Homo sapiens: one gene and its partners. The protein of the gene in region 1 purifies or fractionates together with the protein of each later gene. This does not show direct contact. Each region holds a gene or a part of one and is shown in the gene's direction. Other genes may lie near its edges.

Region 1 (5,412 bases):
CCTGGCTAATTTTTATGTTTTTCATACAGATGGGGTTTTACCATGTTGGCCAGGCTGGTCTCAAACTCCTGACCTCAGGTGATCTGCCCGCCTTGGCCTCCTAAAGTGCTGGGATTACAGGCGTGAGCCACTGTTCCCAGCCCACACTTTTTATTTAGATAGATTTTACCATATGATCCACTATAGAGGTTGTATCAGTTTACTTTCCCACCAGCAATGACCTCAATTCTTGTTTAATGGCTGTGGAGTAGTCTGTTCTCCAGAGGTTTTGTTTTTTTGTTGTTGTTTTTGTTTGTTTGTTTGTTCATTTGTTAGAGTCTCACTCTTTGGCCAGGCTGGAGTGCAGTGGTGTGATCTTGGCTCACTGCAACCTCCGCCTGCCAGGTACAAACAATTCTCATGCCTCAGCCTCCCAAGTAGCTGGAATTACAGGCGCGTGCCACTACGCCTGGCTAATTTTTATATTTTTAGTAGTGACAGGGTTTCACCATGTTGGCCAGGCTGGTCTCGAACTCTTGACCTCAAGTGATCCGCCCACCTCGGCCTCCCATAGTGCTGGGATTACAGGTGTGAGCCACTGTGCCTGGCTTCTCCAGAGGTTTTTAAGCAGATACGTGATACAATCAGGTGTAGGCTTTAGAAAGAGCTCATGGCAGGGTGGGTGATAGGCAGGAGGGAGAAGTGTAATGTTGGTGCAGGGGTTGTGAAGACAGCAATGCAGCAATGAGGGCCAAAGGATTGGGGTGGGAAGTTAGGAAAGGTAACCTTGGAGAGCTGAGTGACTGGATGTTGTGGTAAAGAATGGAGACTCTGGAGTCTCCAGCTGGGTCAACAGTAACAGAATGGCCCATGAATTTCAGATCATTTCCAGGGCATGGCGTAGAAGCAGTGCTCCGAGAGCTTGAACCGTGCCAATGGCTTGAAGCAGGCATCTGTCCTCTCTTACAGCTTTTGTTTCCGCTCTGATAACAACATCCAGAATGTCACTGGAAGCTACATTTACTTCTGCTGTTTGTGTCAGGTTTTTCCCCCACTTTCTAATTGTGTTTTATGTTGCAGGATCTATTGTATTTACATACACAAATCTGGTTAAAAAATCGCAATTGGATTGGTAAAGAATCCTAGCAACTTTTTAGTATTTTTGTAACTACAAAGATTAGCTGTTCAGTTACCTTCAGGATTCTGTTCCTCAGAAAGGTTGCAGGCTTCCCAAGTATCTTCCTGTTAAAACTTTCCAACCGAAATTTCCAGATAGGAAAGATAGAAATCTTCTAGGAAACAGCTCCCAAGAGTTTGGGGTCTGGAACTGGACTGCCTCAGTTTCAGTCCTGGCTCTGCCACTCACCAGCTGTGTGACACTAAGCAAGTTACTTCACCTCTCTAGACCTCCGCTTCCTCATCTGTAAAAGAGCTATTAAAAGTACCTGCTGGCCAGGCGTGATGGCTCACGCCTGTAATCCCAGCACTTCGGGAGGCCAAGGCAGGCAGATCACAAGGTCAGGATCTTGTGACAGACCATCCTGACTAACATGGTGAAACCCTGTCTCTACTAAAAATACAAAAAATTAGCTGGGCGTGGTGGTACATGCCTGTAGTCCCAGCTACTCGGGAGGCTGAGACATGAGAATTGCTTGAACCCAAGAGGCGGAGGTTGCAGTGAGCCAAGATTGCACCACTGCATTCCAGCCTGGGCAACAGAGCGAGACTCCATCTCAAAAAAAAAAAAAAAAAGTACCTGCTTTGTGGGGTTTTTGTGAGGATGAAAACATGTAAAGTACCTAGAACAGTGCAGTAATGTTATTGTTATTACTATTATCGTCAGATTTCAGGTCTCCCATTCTTTTTTTTTTTTTTTTTTTAATGGAGGCAGAGTATCTCCATGTTGCCCATGCTGGTCTCAAACTCCTGGGCTCAACCGATCTGCCCACCTTGACCTCCCAAAGTGCTGGGATTACAGTCCAGTCTCCCATTCTGACTCAGCATTGCAGCATGGGATATTTATAAGTCACCCGCAAAGGAGACCAGAGTCCTCTGTGTAATGGAGAGGATCTGTCCAACCTTGGTTTGTCACTGAATAAGATTAGGCCTCTTCCCACCCAGGGTGCTGAGCTGAATTGAAAGGAATATGTGGAAATGAGCCATAATGCTGGTTTGTAGGTGAAGCCACAGAGTCCTGCGTGTCCTTTGACAGCCCTGAGCCTCTGCATGTGCATATCTTTCTGCCTGATAAGCACTTCCTTTCCTTGTACACAAAGCACACTCCTCAAGCCGGGCATGGTGGCTCACACCTGTAATCCCAGCACTTTGGGAGGCCAAGGCAGGCAGATCATCTGAGGTCAGGAGTTTGAGACCAGCCTGGCCAACATGGTGAAACCCCATCTCTACTAAAAATACAAAATTAGCTGGGTGTGGTGGCAGGTGCCTATAATCCCAGCTACTCAGGAGGCCGAGGCAGAGAATCACTTGATTTGTAGTGAGCTGAGATTGTGCCATTGCACTCCAGCCTGTGCAAAAAGAGCAAAACTCCACTAAAAAAAAACAAAAAAAAAAAACTGACAAGCTGACTCCTAAACCCAGTCAGCATTTGTCTGGCTCCAGACTACCAGACACTGTGCTTGACCATCAAGGCCTTGCTTAAGTGGTACCTGCTCTTGCCACCTCTGACTCCCTTACTTCTCTGCAGAAATAGTGTCTTGTTGGCTGTGTCGTGATTCCGTTTTGCATAATAATGATACAAATGGTGTATACGGTTTAAATGATGACTCGAGATACAATGCTGAGTACTTCCAAAGCAGAAATCAGAATCCTCACAACTTGTTTTACAGCTGAGGAAATTGAGGCTTAGAGAAAAAAAAAATCACTTTCCCAAGGTCCCACAGCTGGGAAGTAGAGCTGGGAGTCCAAATGGACTTCCTGATCTCAGAGTCCCTTCATAACTGCTGATGTTCATACTGTGTGTCACAGTGATATACATGTCTATTGCATCATGTGTCACACTACATTATAATAGCCTGTTTGGGGTTTTTTTTGGGAGGGGGGCTTTTTTTTTTTTATGAGACAGAGTCTCGCTCTGTTGCCGAGGCTGGAGTTCAGTGGCACGATCCCCACTCACTACGGCCTCCACCTCCCGGGTTCAAGCAATTCTCCTGCCTCAACCTCCTGAGTAGCTGGGACCATAGGCGCACAATATCACACCCGGCTAATTTTTGTATTTTTAGTAGAGACGGGGTTTCACCATGTTGGCCAGGCTGGTCTTTTTTTTTTTTTGAGACAGAGTCTCGCTGTCCACCCAGGCTGGAGTTCAGTGGCTCAGTCTCGGCTCACTGCAACCTCCACCTCCCAGGTTCAAGCTATTCTCCTCCCTCAGCCTCCCAAGTAGCTGGGATTACAGATGCACACCAGCACGCCCAGCTAATTTTTGTATTTTTAGTAGAGACAAGGTTTCACCATGTTGGCCAGGCTGATCTCGAAATCCTGACCTCAGGTGATCCGCCCGCCTCCATCTCCCAAAGTGCTGGGATTACAGGCATGAGCCACCACGCCCAGCCAGTTTTGCTGTGCATTCCATAAAATAGAATACGTGTTCCCTGTAATATGTATCATGTCACAGTATTAACCTACCTGCCTGTGAGTGTTTCAAGATCAGGAACTCATTTTTGTACCCATACTACTGCTACACAGGAAATGTATTGAATGTGTGGAGATGCTCAGAGGGGATGAGGAACTTGCCCAAGTCCCACAGCACACTGCTGGCAAAAGCAGAAGCCAAGGGTTGGGAGAGAATAGGGAAGGAAGGAAACTGGGCCTCTCATGTGGGTATTGTTCACCCACCCCACTCCCACCTCCTAGCAAAGCTGTCCAAGTGACTCACATGGAGCTGCCTCCAGTGGCTCCAGAGGGGAGGGTCTCCCTTCCAGCCCAGAGCCTGGGCTGCCTCAGCCATGCATAGGCAAGGGTGTGGTTAGGGGCCTCCTCACTCACCTCTCCCTGATAGTCACAACCCCCAATACAGGCACAGTACTTTAGTTTGCCAGGCTGTTTCGCATCCCATATCTTATTTGCTTTAAGACTCCTATGGGGCTGGGTGTGGTGGTTCACGCCTATAATCTCAGCATTTTGGGAGGCCAAGGCAGGAGGATCACTTGATGCCAGGAGTTCAAGGCTGCAGTGAGCTATGATCCTGCCACTGCACTCCAGCTTGGGCAACAGAGAGAGACCCTGTCACTTTTCTTTAAAAAAAAAAGAAGGCTCTTGGACCTTTTTTGAAGTGAGGCTAGAGATTGTCCTCCTGTTTGACAGAGAAGTAAACCCAGTCACTCAGCAAGCCGTTAACAGAGCAAGGAATACCTTGGATACACTTTATGTGTAGCATTTTACTTATTTATGAACTATATCTGTAGGGAGAATTCCCACAGATGGAATTGCTTGGTCAAAGGGTATGTGCATTTGTAATTTTTTGTGTATTGCCTAGTTGCTTTCTACAGGAAGACAGATTGACTCCCATAGGCAGTGTGGGAGACTACATCTTTCCCCGTAGCCCCACCGACTCAGTATGTTACCCAGTGTGTGGATTCTTACCTTTCCGATAGACAAAAAACAGAATCTCAGTGTGCTTTAGTTTGAGCTCTTATTAAGAGTGAGAATAAAGACTTTTTTTATTATTATTAAGAGCCATTTGTAGTTCTTGTTGTGTGGCTTTTTTTTTTTTTTTTTTTTTTAGATGGAGTCTCGCTCTGTCGCCCAGGCTGGAATGCAGTGGCACAATCTTGGCTCACTGCACGCTCCGCCTCCCGGGTTCATGCCATTCTGCTGCCTCAGCCTCCCGAGTAGCTGGGACTACAGGCGCCCGCCACCACATCTGGCTAATTTTTTCTATTTTTAGTAGAGATGGGGTTTCACCACGTTAGCCAGGATGGTCTTGATCTCCTGACCTCACGATCCGCCTGCCTCGGCCTCCCAAAGTGCTGGGATTACAAGCGTGAGCCATTGTGCCCGGCCTCTGTGGCTCCTCTTTTTGTATCTTTGGGCATGTGGAAATTTCAGTCTAATGCATCCTGCCAAATTACCCTCCCGAAAAGGCTGGACAGGTTTATACTTTAGGCCAGTGCTGTCTATGTATTTCCTTTAGCCAGGCACAGTGGTGCATGCCTGTAATCCCAGCTACTTGGGAGGCTGAGGCAAGAGGATTACTTAAACCCAGGATTTCGAATCTAGCCCACACCTCCCTCTCCTAGTAGTCATTTTGTGGGCTTACTGCCCTCTGCCCCATCTCCTTCCCTCTTTGCAACCTTCCACCTGGGACACTAGGGCCTCTCTGAGCCAGTCTTACCTTCTCCAGACACCCTCTCTCTTAGCAGGTTTTTTATTGTTGGTTTTTGTCAGCCAAAATATTTGTGAGTCTCCATAACTGAA
Region 2 (4,456 bases), on another chromosome or scaffold:
TTGCAGGCTGTTCGCTTTCCACTCAGCACTGGGGAACCTCTTTCTCTTTCTCCAGAATCTAATGTGATGCAGGTGGTCCCCAACTTTTAACAATTTTGTAACTTGGTGCAAAGGTGATGCACATTCAGCAGAAACTTTACTTCGAGTCCCATGCTTTTCCCTTTCAGTGCAGGATTCAATGAGTTACATGAGATAATCAGCACTGTATTCCACAATAGGCTTTGTGTTCAATGCTTTTGCCCAACTGTAGGCTAACACAAGTGTTCTGAGCACGTGAATCGGATGGCTTTACTCTCACCTCTGCTGGACCTTGGGCCACCTGCAGATCTGATGGAGGAAGGGGTACTGCCTCAACCCAAAATACGTCTTGCCTCGATGGCCCCGCCCACCTCTCTTGTCTCTTCTAGGTCCCTGAAGCTATCCGAAAATGCCAGCGTGCTGGCATCACAGTCCGCATGGTGACTGGGGACAACATCAACACGGCCCGGGCCATCGCAGCCAAATGCGGCATCATCCAGCCCGGGGAGGACTTCCTGTGCCTAGAAGGGAAGGAGTTCAACCGGCGGATCCGCAATGAGAAAGGCGAGGTAGCACCCGGCTGTCTGCCACCCCAGACCCCCCTTCTCCTCACCCCAGCCCCCTGCGTGCCCGCCTTAGCTCTGCAGCGTCCTTGTGCTTCCCCTCCCCAGATAGAACAGGAGCGGCTGGACAAGGTGTGGCCCAAGCTGAGGGTGCTGGCCCGGTCGTCTCCCACCGACAAGCACACACTGGTCAAAGGTAGCCGAGCCCCCACACCCCTTTCCTGGGGTGGCCAGCCCGAGGTTGTCTGCTTCCTGACACCAAAAGCCAGGTTCCCAAACAGGTCCCCAGGGCCTGCCTAGGAAGCTGGGTCCATTTGTCCCATTAGCCCAGAGCAGCAGGGCAGGGGCCCATGAGGGAACCAGGGTTCGGGGAGGGCTAGTGACTCACTCCAAGTCACACAGTGAGTCTCTAGAAGCAGTGGGTCTAGAGCCAGGGACCCAGGATTGTGTCCCCAGGCCCTAACCAGATCCCTATCCTCCCACCCTGGCCCTGTCACTCAGTGAGATTTGCTTACTTATTTGGGGATAGGAGATGATCCAGGTGACGGGGAGCACAGATAATTGGGACAGTCAGGACGGGGTAATCCCAAAGGGTTTTCACAGCCAACCTACCCCCATAGCTCCCTGGGCAGGGCTACACAGGGTTGTGGTGACAGATGGCCCCAGCCCTGCCCTGCCCTGATCTGTCTTCCAGGGATTATCGACAGCACCACTGGTGAGCAGCGGCAGGTGGTGGCTGTGACAGGGGATGGCACCAACGATGGGCCGGCCCTCAAGAAGGCGGACGTGGGCTTCGCCATGGTAAGCCACCTGGTGCCCGCCCAGCTCACCACGGCAGATGGGGCCTGCATCTGTCCCATGGACATTAGCTTTGTACCAGGAAGTGGGAGCCAGTGTCGGGGCAGGTTACAGAGTGCCTGAAGGTTCTTTCTTTCACATCCTGGCCACTTGGGCCTGCGTGGGCTCTGCCAGTCGGGGGACATGTGGTTAAAGGCATCTGCTGTGATGCCCAAGGTGACAGTGGGCCCCAGACATACTGTGGAGAGGAAGGGGAATGGGGGGTGGGGGCTCATCACTGATGGCATTGCCCACCCCCGTCCTCTCTAAATGGACTCTCAGCCCCAGATGAGGTGAGCAGAGTCCCCAGATGTGCTCTTCCTCTGCACTTCCTTCCTGTTGCTCACCCACTGAGCAGGGTAGCCCTGCAGACGCCACCCACATGGCTGGTTGCGGCCCCTCAGTGGCCCCACAGCCACTGAACGCAGCAACCTGGTGAGCCCCTCTCCCTGCCCTACCGAAAAGGAGTGTCACCCAGGGAACCCAGCCCAGTCCTTCCCAGCACCCGTAGCCCAGAAGGGAGCTCCAGCCCAAGCTTCGAGAGGTGGCAGCTCTCACGGGGCCAGGCTTGGGGCAGAGGAGAGGACTGCGCAGCTTGGCACAGCTGCAGCTGCGCCTCCATGGGACAGGGACTCCTCTGCAAGGAGCCGCCCCGCCCAGGGTGTCCCCATGCAGGACTTCCCAGGGCTCCTTAGCCAGCAAGCCTCTCTGGAGTGCTAAGAACAGACCACGCTGCTTGGTGGCCACGTGGTGGCAGCTGGGCTTTATGTGTAAAGCTGTGTTGATGCCATGTCATCAGCACCCTCTGTGTTTATGAGCAAAGCCCCCCCCCCCACCGTGACATGTGACAACTTACTGTTTGTAGTACAAGAATGTGTTGCATTAAAAAAAAGCAACAAAAAACAGTGCTGTTCTTGGCTTTGGGGGGCGGGGTGGGATGTTATTCAGAAGGGGAGAGCAGGGAGCCAGCCCAGGCGGGCCAGGTGATCAAGGGGGGCTGGGGAAGGGGCCCCCACAAACACTCTGTGTGAGTGTGTGTGTCACCCCCCCAGGGCATCGCAGGGACCGACGTGGCCAAGGAGGCCTCCGACATCATCCTGACCGATGACAACTTCACCAGCATCGTCAAGGCAGTCATGTGGGGCCGTAACGTCTATGACAGCATCTCCAAGTTCCTGCAGTTTCAACTGACGGTCAATGTGGTGGCTGTGATCGTGGCCTTCACAGGTGCCTGCATTACTCAGGTGGGTACTGGGGGCTGCCATGCCCCAGCTAGGACACCTGGGCTCAGGCCTGAGGGCCAGATTGTGAGAGTGAGGGTTTTGTTTTCTTTGCTGCAGATTATTTTAATTGAGATCAAATTCATATGCCAAAAATTCACCATTTTCAAGTACATAATTCAGCACTCGAATTTGTAGGACATTCACCACGTTGTGCAACCATTGGCTCTATCTAGTTCCAGAAGATTGTCATCATCTTAAAAAGAAACCCTGTGCTCTTGAGCAGTCATTTCCCCATTTCTCCCCCAAACATCCCAGCCCCCGGCAACCACTCACAGGCTTCCTGGGTCTATGGATTTGCCTGTTCCGGACATTTCATTCCTATGGGATCAAATAATATGTGGCCTCTTGTGTCTGGCATCTCGCTTAGCACCGTGTTTTCAGGCTCACACACACCGTAGCATAGGGCAGGACTTTCTGCCTTTTCATGGCCTCATAACACTCCACGGCACAGACTGCCACATTATGTATGTCTGCCCTGATGGACACATGGCTCGTTCCCACTTTTTGGCTCTTGTGAATGGTGCTGCCAGGAGCATCTGTGTATGAGTTTCTGCGTGGGCTATGCGTCCCATGGGAACCCTTTCTCAACAGTCCCATTTTCCCCATTGGTGAGTGTCCAGATTTTCTTCACCCCGCCTTAGAAAGGGGGTGTTTAAATTGCCTGCTGATCAACTTGGTCTTTTCAAAACAATTTTTTAAATTGAGATAAAAAATCACATAACAAACTTCAACAGAACCATTTTAACCTTTTGAAAGTACATAACTCCGAGGTTTATATCCCTCCACTGTCTATTCCCAGAACATTCTCATCACCCCAAAAGGACACCCAGACCCCGTGAGCAGTCACTCTCTACTCCCCAAACCCCAGCCCCTGGCACCCACTCATCTGCTTTCTCTCTCTATGGATTTGTCAGTTCTGGAAGTTTCCTATGAATGGAATCAGACAGTACGTGGCCTTGTGTGTCTGGCTTCTGTGAGGCTGATTTTTAACGAACAACTCAGAGGAGCTGAGAAGGAAGGTCCAGTTCAGAGTTTCTGCCTCCTCCTGCCCCTGAGGTGCAGGAGACAAGGAGAGCAGCCCTCACTCTGTTGCCCCAAATGGCAGACCCCATCGTCGGGCTGTTTTGTGGTCTGGGGTTTTTCACCTCCTGCGAGGGATTTGGAGCACACCTGCTGCCAGGTGAGAGAAGGGAGGCGGGCACGTGACAGCCCAAAGAAAACGCCCCACTAGCGTAAAGGCGATGTAGGGATGGAGATGTCTGTTTTCATGGGCATGAAATCCTGGTGATGTGGACCCCATGAGGAGCCCCCAGGAGCTACTGGGTTTCCACCCCCAACCTTCCCGGGCAGGCGGCCCATGGAAAGGTGACTGCCTCCTCTCCATAGGACTCTCCTCTCAAAGCCGTGCAGATGTTGTGGGTGAACTTGATCATGGACACATTTGCCTCTCTGGCCCTGGCGACGGAGCCACCCACAGAGTCGCTGCTGCTGCGGAAGCCGTACGGCCGCGACAAGCCCCTCATCTCCCGCACCATGATGAAGAACATTCTGGGCCACGCCGTGTACCAGCTCGCCATCATCTTCACCCTGCTGTTTGTCGGTAGGCTGGCCAGGGGCACCCGGGAGGACTTCAGGACACTGTTGCCACCACCTCGGGCTCAGATTCTGTCTGGTGTGTCTCCACCTGTGTCTCCGCACCCAGTACGGGGTGGGACGCTGCACTTCCTGACTGGACAGCACACAGGGGAAGGAGCA
Region 3 (4,456 bases), on another chromosome or scaffold:
TGGCTTGACTGTGTTCTAGACTTCCTCTGCCTGGCCTGTAAAGTTGGAGGGGTGGGGGGCTGTCACAGAAACCACTCTCCTTTCTTGTCCCTACAGAAGAATGTGACTCTGCAATGTGTGTTCTGGGTTGAAGACCCCACATGTGAGTATGCAGGGGTCTCTGGGCTGGACAAGTATCTGGAAGAGAAATAGAGTCCTGGGGGGTGGGGGAGGTGGGGTTAATCACCGAGGGCTTCCTGGAGAAAGGAGGACTTTGAAGAGAGAGCGATGGCAGGCTATGAGTAGGCCGGGTGGAAGAATGACACAGTCGTGCTTTTGGGGGTGGACACAGTGGGGTCCTGGAGGACTGGACTTGATTGGAGCCCCGTGCTGTCCCCTCCTCAGTGAGCAGCCCGGGGCATTGGAGCAGTGCTGGGTGTGAGACCGTCAGGAGAGAAACCCAAACATCCTGCTTCTGCAACCACTTGACCTACTTTGCAGTGCTGATGGTGAGGGTCCCTGCTCCCACCTCGCAGCCACACCCCAGGCCGTGTGCTTGTTCTGTGCAAGCACTTTTCATATATTCAGTCATTTATTCCTCATAACAGCTCTCCAAGGTAGCTTCTATTGTTGTCCCATTTTATAGATGAGGAAATGGAGGCTCAGAGAGGTTAAGCAATTTACCCGTGGCCACACAGCTAGTCAGTGAAAGAGCTGGTTTGTAGAGCCCCTGCTCTTTATTCCCAAATTTTGGTGTGTACGAAAATGCAGATTCCTGGCCCTCACCTAGGGTTCTGATTTGGCAGTGATGGGGCCAAGAGTGTTTCTAATGAGGCCCCTGAGGTGGCCTCCAGTGCCCCCAAGACCTCAGAATTCATGCTCCCAGGACTGTAGGATTCTGCCTGTGGGTATCCACCTGGGGCTTGAACACCCCTGGGTGTGGGAATCTCATTCCCTCACAGGAAACCTATTCCCATGTTAAATGTTATAGAAGAATAATCAATGCCAGGACAGAATAGGGGTTCTCTCATGAAGGGTTCTTGGCCTCTGTGGGTCAGGAAGCCGCTTGAGAATGTGGTCAAATCTAAAGATGCCCCCACTCCAGAAAAATGCACTTATGGGACCACATTCTGCTCAGTTGGGAGAGGGGGTTCTTAGGCTTCCGAGGCCCACCAGGGACCCCAGGTTAGCCCCTCACGCAGGGCAAGCCTCCAGGTTGTGTGGGGGACACAGAGGCCAGCTCTCTCCTGTCTCCTGGGGCCAGGTCTCCTCGGTGGAGGTGGACGCCGTGCACAAGCACTACCTGAGCCTCCTCTCCTACGTGGGCTGTGTCGTCTCTGCCCTGGCCTGCCTTGTCACCATTGCCGCCTACCTCTGCTCCAGGTGAGGCCTGAAAGGGGTGGGACAGGGGAGGGGACCCTCCATTGCACACACCTCCACCAGGGCGCCGCACACATCTCCGGTCATGGCCCGCCCGCATGACCTGGAACTGTGTGTGTGGTTAGGGGAGCTGTTTGGGGTAAGCTGACCCTTGGGGGCCACGTCTCCTCCTCAGATCAGTGGTGTTTGGATAACATAGTATTTACAAATTTTAGCTGTCGACATTGTATTTATTTATTTTTATTTTTATTTTATTATTATTATTTTTTTGAGACAGAGCCTTGCCTCTGTCGCCCAGGCTGGAGTGTAGTAGCATGATCTCGGCTCACTGCAACCTCTGCCTCCCGGGTTCAAGTGATTCTTGTGCCTCAGCCTCCTGAGTAGTTGGGACTACTGGCGCCTGCCACCACACCTGGCTAATCTGTATATTTTTAGTAGAGACGGGGTTTCACCATGTTGCTCAGGCTGGTCTCGAACTCCTGACCTCAAGTGATCCACCCACCTCAGCCCCCCGAAGCGCTGGGATTACAGGCATGAGTCACTGTGCCAGGCTAATTGTCAACATTTAAAATTGAGAGAGTCCACCTAAGAATCTGTTTCTTTCCTAGAGTAAGACAGGAAAGCAAAATAAAAAACTTAAAAAAGGAAAGATTTTTCATTTCTGCCTTTGAATAAGCAGATTTGTGAGAGCACTGGGTGGACACAATAATATCACAGCGGTAATGATCATACTTAACGTGTGTCAAACTTCCCGTGTGCCATGCACTGTTCTAAGTGTTTTACATGTGTGAACTCAATTCATCCTCACAACAGCCCTATGAAGGAACACTCAGAGAGGGTAAGTGACTTGCTTGAGGTCACACAGCAAGGAAGTGGCAGAGGTCAGATTGTCAGTGCTTGGCTTGGCCTAAATTGGGGTCCACTTGCCCTCAGCGCTGAACCCATTTGGGTAGAGGAGAGGCACCCTCGGTTCTCACTGTCCCCAGCCACGAGGAAGGAGAGGAAAGTGAAGCTGTATTTATGCGTGTGCACAAGCACGTGTGTGCCTATATGACTGTCCTGTGTGTGCACAGCTGTGTACCTGGGGAGCTAAGTAGGTGATGGTGATGAGGAAGGACAGCTGGGTGATGAGATGGGCTCGGCGGAAGGCTGGGGGTGGAGGCAGAAGTCCTCAACACCCAGTTGCTCACAAACATGCCCAAGGACACAGCACAGGAACCCTTAGGAACTGAGCACCTTATCTGTGTCAGATGCTTTGTGTCAGTGTAACTCTCACCCCAACCCTATGAGGGTACCATCCTCCCACTTCACAGATAGGCAAACTGAGAGTCTCAAGGGGAGGGGACCAGCTGAAGATGGTGCCATGAGTTAGGGGCAGGGCAGGGTGGGACTCCAGGATGGTGACACTGGGGCCTGCATGTTCTGCTGCACCCTCTAGGGCCATGTAGAATCCTGGAGTGGGGGTGGGGTGGGGTGTGCACACATTGACTTGCAAACCTCAGACAGACCGATGCGGGCAGCCCACACTCAGACTCACAGGTGCACAGTTGTGCAGACAGACGGGAAGACACAGAATGTGGATGGCATGGATTCTCCAACATGGTGAAAATGCCAAAGTGTTTCCGCTCTGACTTTGAGAGTATCTGGTTTATTACTGTGGTTGTCTTCCTCGCTCTGCCTGGCTGAGGCTTCTGTTAAACGTGCACGTGGTGCCTGAGTCTGTGGGTGCTGGGCACACAGTAGGTGCACAGGGGGATGTGGGGAACAGTTTGGCTGCAGCCACAGGAATAGGATAGGGGCCATGTATGACTGCATGTGTGTGTCGGGGTGGGGGGCAGTCTGGGAAGGCTTCCTGGAGGAGATGTGGGCACACTCCCCTCTCTACCTTCCCACACTGGCCCACCAGGGTGCCCCTGCCGTGCAGGAGGAAACCTCGGGACTACACCATCAAGGTGCACATGAACCTGCTGCTGGCCGTCTTCCTGCTGGACACGAGCTTCCTGCTCAGCGAGCCGGTGGCCCTGACAGGCTCTGAGGCTGGCTGCCGAGCCAGTGCCATCTTCCTGCACTTCTCCCTGCTCACCTGCCTTTCCTGGATGGGCCTCGAGGGGTACAACCTCTACCGACTCGTGGTGGAGGTCTTTGGCACCTATGTCCCTGGCTACCTACTCAAGCTGAGCGCCATGGGCTGGGGTAAGTGGTTGGGCGGGGGGTGCCTCAGACCTGCCTCTCCCACTTGGCTCTGGCAAAACCCAGGCACCTGGTTCTGCCTCTCCACCTATCTCTCTGACTTCCCTCCTGGCCTCCTTCACTCATCCTCAGGTGTCCTTCACCTTGGCTGAATCAAGGTCCCCTTTAGGAAGAAGCAGTGAGCCCTGTCCCCAAGAAACACTTCCAAATTCTCCACATCACTCACTCCATTGCAAAGGGGATTTACGAGCAGGGCCACCGTGTGTGAATGTGCAGGTTGTGCACTGCTCAAAGGCACCCAGTTCAGAGATCAGAGGGGCTGAAATCCAGTCCCGCTCCAGTCATTTAATTCACTCGGGCTGGCAGTGGCCCTGCCTCAGGATCCCCCTGGACCTTGGGTAACAGATTCCCTGTGGCTTGGCATTTTGTTCTTGGCCAATGACTGTTCAATTCACCTGTGGCCAGCCCTCTTATGTCAGACCTACAGCCCAGGGGCTCATGATGCCACAAGTCTGTTTGGACATTGCACAGACCCCTCAACCTCCGCATGCCCCTGACTCCAGCTTGCTGCTCTTCGCGGGTTTGTCATTGGGCCCCTTCTTTGTCCATTCCCCCATTTGCATGAAATTCCTTTGGAGGTGTCTCTGTGTCAGGACTTTGTGTTTGGAGGTGGGCAGCCCCCTCTAGGGAGCTTCTAATCTCCACCGAACGGGCGAGGTCAAGGCCCAGTGCAGACGTCCCCTGATGGCAGAACTCTTGCCGTCCCTCCTAAACTGTCTGCCCCTCCCATCTCCCCTGTGACATCCAGCCCTGCAGCAGAGACCCACAGGCCTTTCTCCCAGGGGCCCCCAGGGTGACGAAGGGCAGGGCTAAGGTTGGAGGAGATGGCATCCCCTTATAGGAAACC
Region 4 (4,456 bases), on another chromosome or scaffold:
AAGTCAGATACGTGCTTGTGGGAATCTTTGTCTTTCCCACACCACCCTGCATTTTAAAACCTCTTGTGTGGGACAGTCCCACCATGTAATAGCTGTTCTTCCTTACTCAGCTACTTTCCCTCCAGAGAGGCCAGTAGAAAATCTAGACTAGTTTTTTATAGTCTATTTTCATGTCACTTATTGAGAGCTACTGTTTTCTGTTAAATTGTCAGTAAATATTTTAATCAAGGAAAAGGGAGGTAATAGGAAGGAGAGAAGAACAAATCCTTAACCCTAGTAGGAACCTAATGAATGGGATTTGTTCTGGATAATTGCAGTAGTCCCCCAGCTAAAGAACCTTTTAAAAATATGTCAGATATACCCAAGAGGATTGAAATCGTATGTTCATACAAAAGCTTGTTCACCTGCAGCCTTCATATGCAATTCCTATGAATGTTCATAGCAGCATTATTCATAATAGCCAAAGTATGGATGCAACCCAAATGTCCATGAAGCAATTAATAGGTAAACAAAATGTGATCTGTTCACACAGTGGAATACTAACTATTCAGCCATAAAAAGGAATGAAGCACTGAGTCCTGCAGCCACACAGATGAACCTCAGATCCATGCTGAGCGAAAGAAGCCAGAAACAGGAGGCCATGTGCTGTGTGACTGTATTTCTAGGAAATCTTGAGTCACCATGGGCAAGATGCTATCACCTTTGTTCAGTGGCCAGAAGCGAGGGCACTAATATTTACCCTTGCCGGGGTCTACTAGATTGAAGCGTTTCCGCTAGGCCATAAACTTCCAACACGGTGACTTGTACATGTAGATATTTGATCAATATATAGCAAATGAATATTGATTTAAACAGAAAAAGGCAAGTGAGAGTGCTTTCTAAACTTAGAGCCCTAAATATATGAGGTTGTGGAATTAATAGATTCTGTTGTGTGTGTTTGAGGGAATTTAAAAATAATTTAGATGTTAAACAGTATATTGTGGAGGTGTTTTGTAACTAATTAATGACGGCACTGAATTGACTTCTAGGCCTTGCAGTATTAAAACATGTGCTAACACCACGAATAAAGGCAACTCACGTTGCTTTTGATTGCATGAAGAATTATTTAGATGCAATTTATGATGTTACGGTGGTTTATGAAGGGAAAGACGATGGAGGGCAGCGAAGAGAGTCACCGACCATGACGGGTAAGTGTGTTCACGCACCTGAAATGCCTGTACACGGTATATACAGTGCACATGTTTATGTAGAATTCAGTTTTACAAAGTAGGTTAAGTGTACTTTTTTCCTTCATTACATTTACCCGGTATATTTTTCAAGATGTTATTAAGATGTAACAGTGGAGATTTCATTAGTCCTGCAAAGTGTGGTATTTCTTGGCTGTCGTGTGAGTCCTGTGGACTCACCAATTATCATTAATCCAGCCTCTTTCTACTCAAAGTTCACACTTAAAAGGAAAGCTCTGTAAAAGGGAGGAAGACGTGAAGAAGGAGCACGCCCGGCAGTACTGAGTGCACGTTATTAGTCAGTGCTGCCCTTTTGCTGTATTTTTCGTAAAATATTTATTAAATTTGGGTGTCATTGTGACAAGAAGAAATGCAGTTAAGTGTGACCTTTTTTTTTCCCCAAACATGTTAGGTTTTAAGAACCTTTGAGCTATTGTCAGATATAACCAGAAAAAAATAGAATTTTAAGTGAGCAGGATAACTTAGTTAAACTAACCAAACATAGTGTTAGCTGTTAGAGAAATGTAAACATGGAAATAGGCAAACAGGGAAGTGTGTGGAGTTTCTGTTTCCTTTTCAAAATATCTGTTTGAGCTGGGGTTGAGAGAGAACACTAGGCTTCATGGGGTTTTTTTGTTTTTCGTTTTTTGTTTTGAGACAAGAGTTTCGCTCTGTCGCCCAGGCTGGAGTGCAGTGGCGCAATCTTGGCTCACTGCAACCTCCGCCTCCCACGTTCACACGATTCTCCTGCCTCAGCCTCCTGAGTAGCTGGAACTACATGCGTGTGCCACCATGCATGACTAATATTTGTATTTTTAGTAGATATGCGATTTCACCTTGTTGGCCAGGCTGGTCTCAAACTCCTTACCTCAGGTGATCCACGCACCTCGGCCTCCCAAATGAGCTTTGTGTTTTTACCTCATCAGCTGTTTGGGGTTGAGCCACTATGTATGTCAGTGTGCTTGTATCAGTAGGATCTACTGAGGGCAGATGTTCAAAATATGAGCCTCCAGCACGTTTTACATGGAAACCCTCACCTGAAGCATTCGTCTGAAGTTGATGTGCCTTGGAAATTTTATAGAGTAATATTTTTAACTACAACAAAACATTTATAAAAGTAGACATTATTAAAGCATTCAGAAGTGAGCAAGGATAGAAATTATTCTGCCCAACCTTACACGTAGGCCTTCTAGACGTAGTACTGTGCACCGTTACATTATCTAACACTGTCTGTGTGTCATCTTTGGATGTTAGGGATTTTTCCAAAGTTCAGTGAGATTATAGTTGTCAAATGATTAGTCTGTTAAATAATGATAAGATGAGGGTCACTCAGGTTTTAAAAGAAAAGCTCTTTGACTGAAAGAGAGAGCAGCTGTCTACTGCAGAAAGTTAGGGAGGGAGGCTGGAGGAGTGAGGCCCAGGGGCTAGCTAGTATAAAAATTGGTTATGGTCGAAGGAAAAAAAAATGTAACATATTTATATCTGAAAGATGATTGTTCTCATAATTGTATATAACACAGAGTAATTGTAAAGTAGAAAACTAAGGTGTTTTTCATTTTAGATGTAAATGTTTAGAATATGTAATGCATCAGTTTAAAAATTAAAACTGTACGAAATGCACAGTGAAACGTCTTCCTTGCTTTCCACCCTGCTACCTGGCCTTCCCTTCTCCTTCCTAGCGATAACCAGTTTTCTTAATTTGTTGTGCGTTGTATGTGCAAATTTAAGTATATCTTCTTATTCTACCATCCCTCCCTTCTTACAGAAAAGTGGCATATTAATATTTTTCTCTTTTAAACTATCGAAGGAGTTACTTACCTATTTTTGCATTTGAAAACAGACAGTTCATCAAGATTGTCGTTGGTTTATTAAACATAGTTTAAGATTAAACAAGTGTTTATAACCAATGAAAAACAGATAGACTCCCCATAATAACCTTGTTTAAATGCTGCTACTTTTATCATGTCCCCTCCTGTCTAAGAACCCCTTGGTTCAGCAGAGCTCATGGGTAAGGCCAGCCTCTGTTGCCTGCCATCGGAGGAATGCGTTCCAGCCGTGATCTCTGCCTTGCCTTCGCTTCCTCCTGTGCTGTGCCGTGAAGCCTCGGCCGTGGTGAAGCTGGCTGACTGAGTCCTCCTGCACCCCATGCATATTCAGTAGTTGAAGGCTTTGTGTGGCCAATCCTGCTTTCCACAGGAAACCACCCTCTCTTTTGTTGCCCTCATCCAAGGCTACTGTTCTCCCACAGTGACAGGCGGCACCTTTCCCAGCATAGCACTGTGCCTTCTCCTGCCCCTGCTCTTGCAGTACTGCTGTGGCACTGATGGCGTGTGTTACAGTGCTGGCACTTAGCACAGGGCTCTGCCTTTCTCTCTTCCCAGCCGCATCATAAGTGCCTTGAGGAAGCCAAAACCTTCTGTGAGTTGCATTGCCTGGGTTCCAACCTCCCACTGCCCTGCTTATCCTCTGCTACATGTGAGCTGACTGTGGCTTTGGGGTGGTCACTGCCTATGTGTATTCATTACAAATTGTCTCCTTTTGAAAGATTGACCTTTCTGACTTACCCAGATACCATAAAGAAAATAAAATCTTATCACTTCAGTCAAGGATAAAGTATTTCTGAATTAAAGGAAAAATACACCAGAGTAAAATCAAGACTGAAAGACAAACTGGGAAATTATTTACAACCTAGATCATAGAAAAGGGGTCATTTCCTTCTTGCGTAAAGTGCACTTACAAATTGATAAGAAGATGACTGATAACTAGAAAGAAAAATGGGTAAAGAACAACAATAGACATTTCACATTTAACCTCATTCATGATAAGGTAAGTGCAAATGAAAACTACAGGGGATACCTTTTTTTTTTTTAATCCATTAGATTGGCAAACATCCCAAGGTTTGATCATAGGCTCAGTGGGTGAGATTCAAGTATTATCAGGCATTTTTATACTTTGCTGTTAGGAATGCAATGTAGTACAAACCTTTGTAGAAGTTGCTTTGGAAATGTCTCTCAGATGTACAAATGCATTCACATTTTAGATTTAGCATTCCCGCTTTCTGAGACATTATTCAACATGTATACGTGTGCACATAAGATATAATAATAACACGTTTTTCCTTCTAGTGTGTTGCTTTTAACCTGTAGCTTGAAAAAACTCTGCTTTCATTGTTTTTTTTTGTTTTCTGTCACTGGCTCAGCCCTGCTTTCAATTGTTTATATGAATTGATG

What was found. Proteins that work in one complex are often made in the same cells at the same time.
Region 2: the proteins of HM13 (region 1) and ATP2B3 fractionate together in Homo sapiens (co-fractionation; one large-scale study listed by BioGRID). This does not show direct contact.
Region 3: the proteins of HM13 (region 1) and ADGRG1 purify together in Homo sapiens (affinity purification with mass spectrometry; one large-scale study listed by BioGRID and IntAct). This does not show direct contact.
Region 4: the proteins of HM13 (region 1) and AGPAT5 purify together in Homo sapiens (affinity purification with mass spectrometry; one large-scale study listed by BioGRID and IntAct). This does not show direct contact.

Annotation. Positions count from the first base shown.
Region 1 is NC_000020.11:31,520,015-31,525,426, forward strand, and holds part of HM13 (signal peptide peptidase), read left to right. Parts: intron 1-5,412. UniProt on the Homo sapiens protein: Catalyzes intramembrane proteolysis of signal peptides that have been removed from precursors of secretory and membrane proteins, resulting in the release of the fragment from the ER membrane into the cytoplasm.
Region 2 is NC_000023.11:153,555,642-153,560,097, forward strand, and holds part of ATP2B3 (plasma membrane calcium-transporting ATPase 3), read left to right. Parts: intron 1-407; coding exon 408-587; intron 588-689; coding exon 690-777; intron 778-1,275; coding exon 1,276-1,382; intron 1,383-2,470; coding exon 2,471-2,662; intron 2,663-4,087; coding exon 4,088-4,301; intron 4,302-4,456. UniProt on the Homo sapiens protein: ATP-driven Ca(2+) ion pump involved in the maintenance of basal intracellular Ca(2+) levels at the presynaptic terminals. Uses ATP as an energy source to transport cytosolic Ca(2+) ions across the plasma membrane to the extracellular compartment.
Region 3 is NC_000016.10:57,656,130-57,660,585, forward strand, and holds part of ADGRG1 (adhesion G-protein coupled receptor G1 isoform b precursor), read left to right. Parts: intron 1-96; coding exon 97-142; intron 143-384; coding exon 385-488; intron 489-1,243; coding exon 1,244-1,362; intron 1,363-3,265; coding exon of another isoform or gene 3,266-3,283; coding exon 3,284-3,552; intron 3,553-4,456. UniProt on the Homo sapiens protein: Adhesion G-protein coupled receptor (aGPCR) for steroid hormone 17alpha-hydroxypregnenolone (17-OH), which is involved in cell adhesion and cell-cell interactions.
Region 4 is NC_000008.11:6,746,642-6,751,097, forward strand, and holds part of AGPAT5 (1-acyl-sn-glycerol-3-phosphate acyltransferase epsilon), read left to right. Parts: intron 1-1,028; coding exon 1,029-1,187; intron 1,188-4,456. UniProt on the Homo sapiens protein: Converts 1-acyl-sn-glycerol-3-phosphate (lysophosphatidic acid or LPA) into 1,2-diacyl-sn-glycerol-3-phosphate (phosphatidic acid or PA) by incorporating an acyl moiety at the sn-2 position of the glycerol backbone.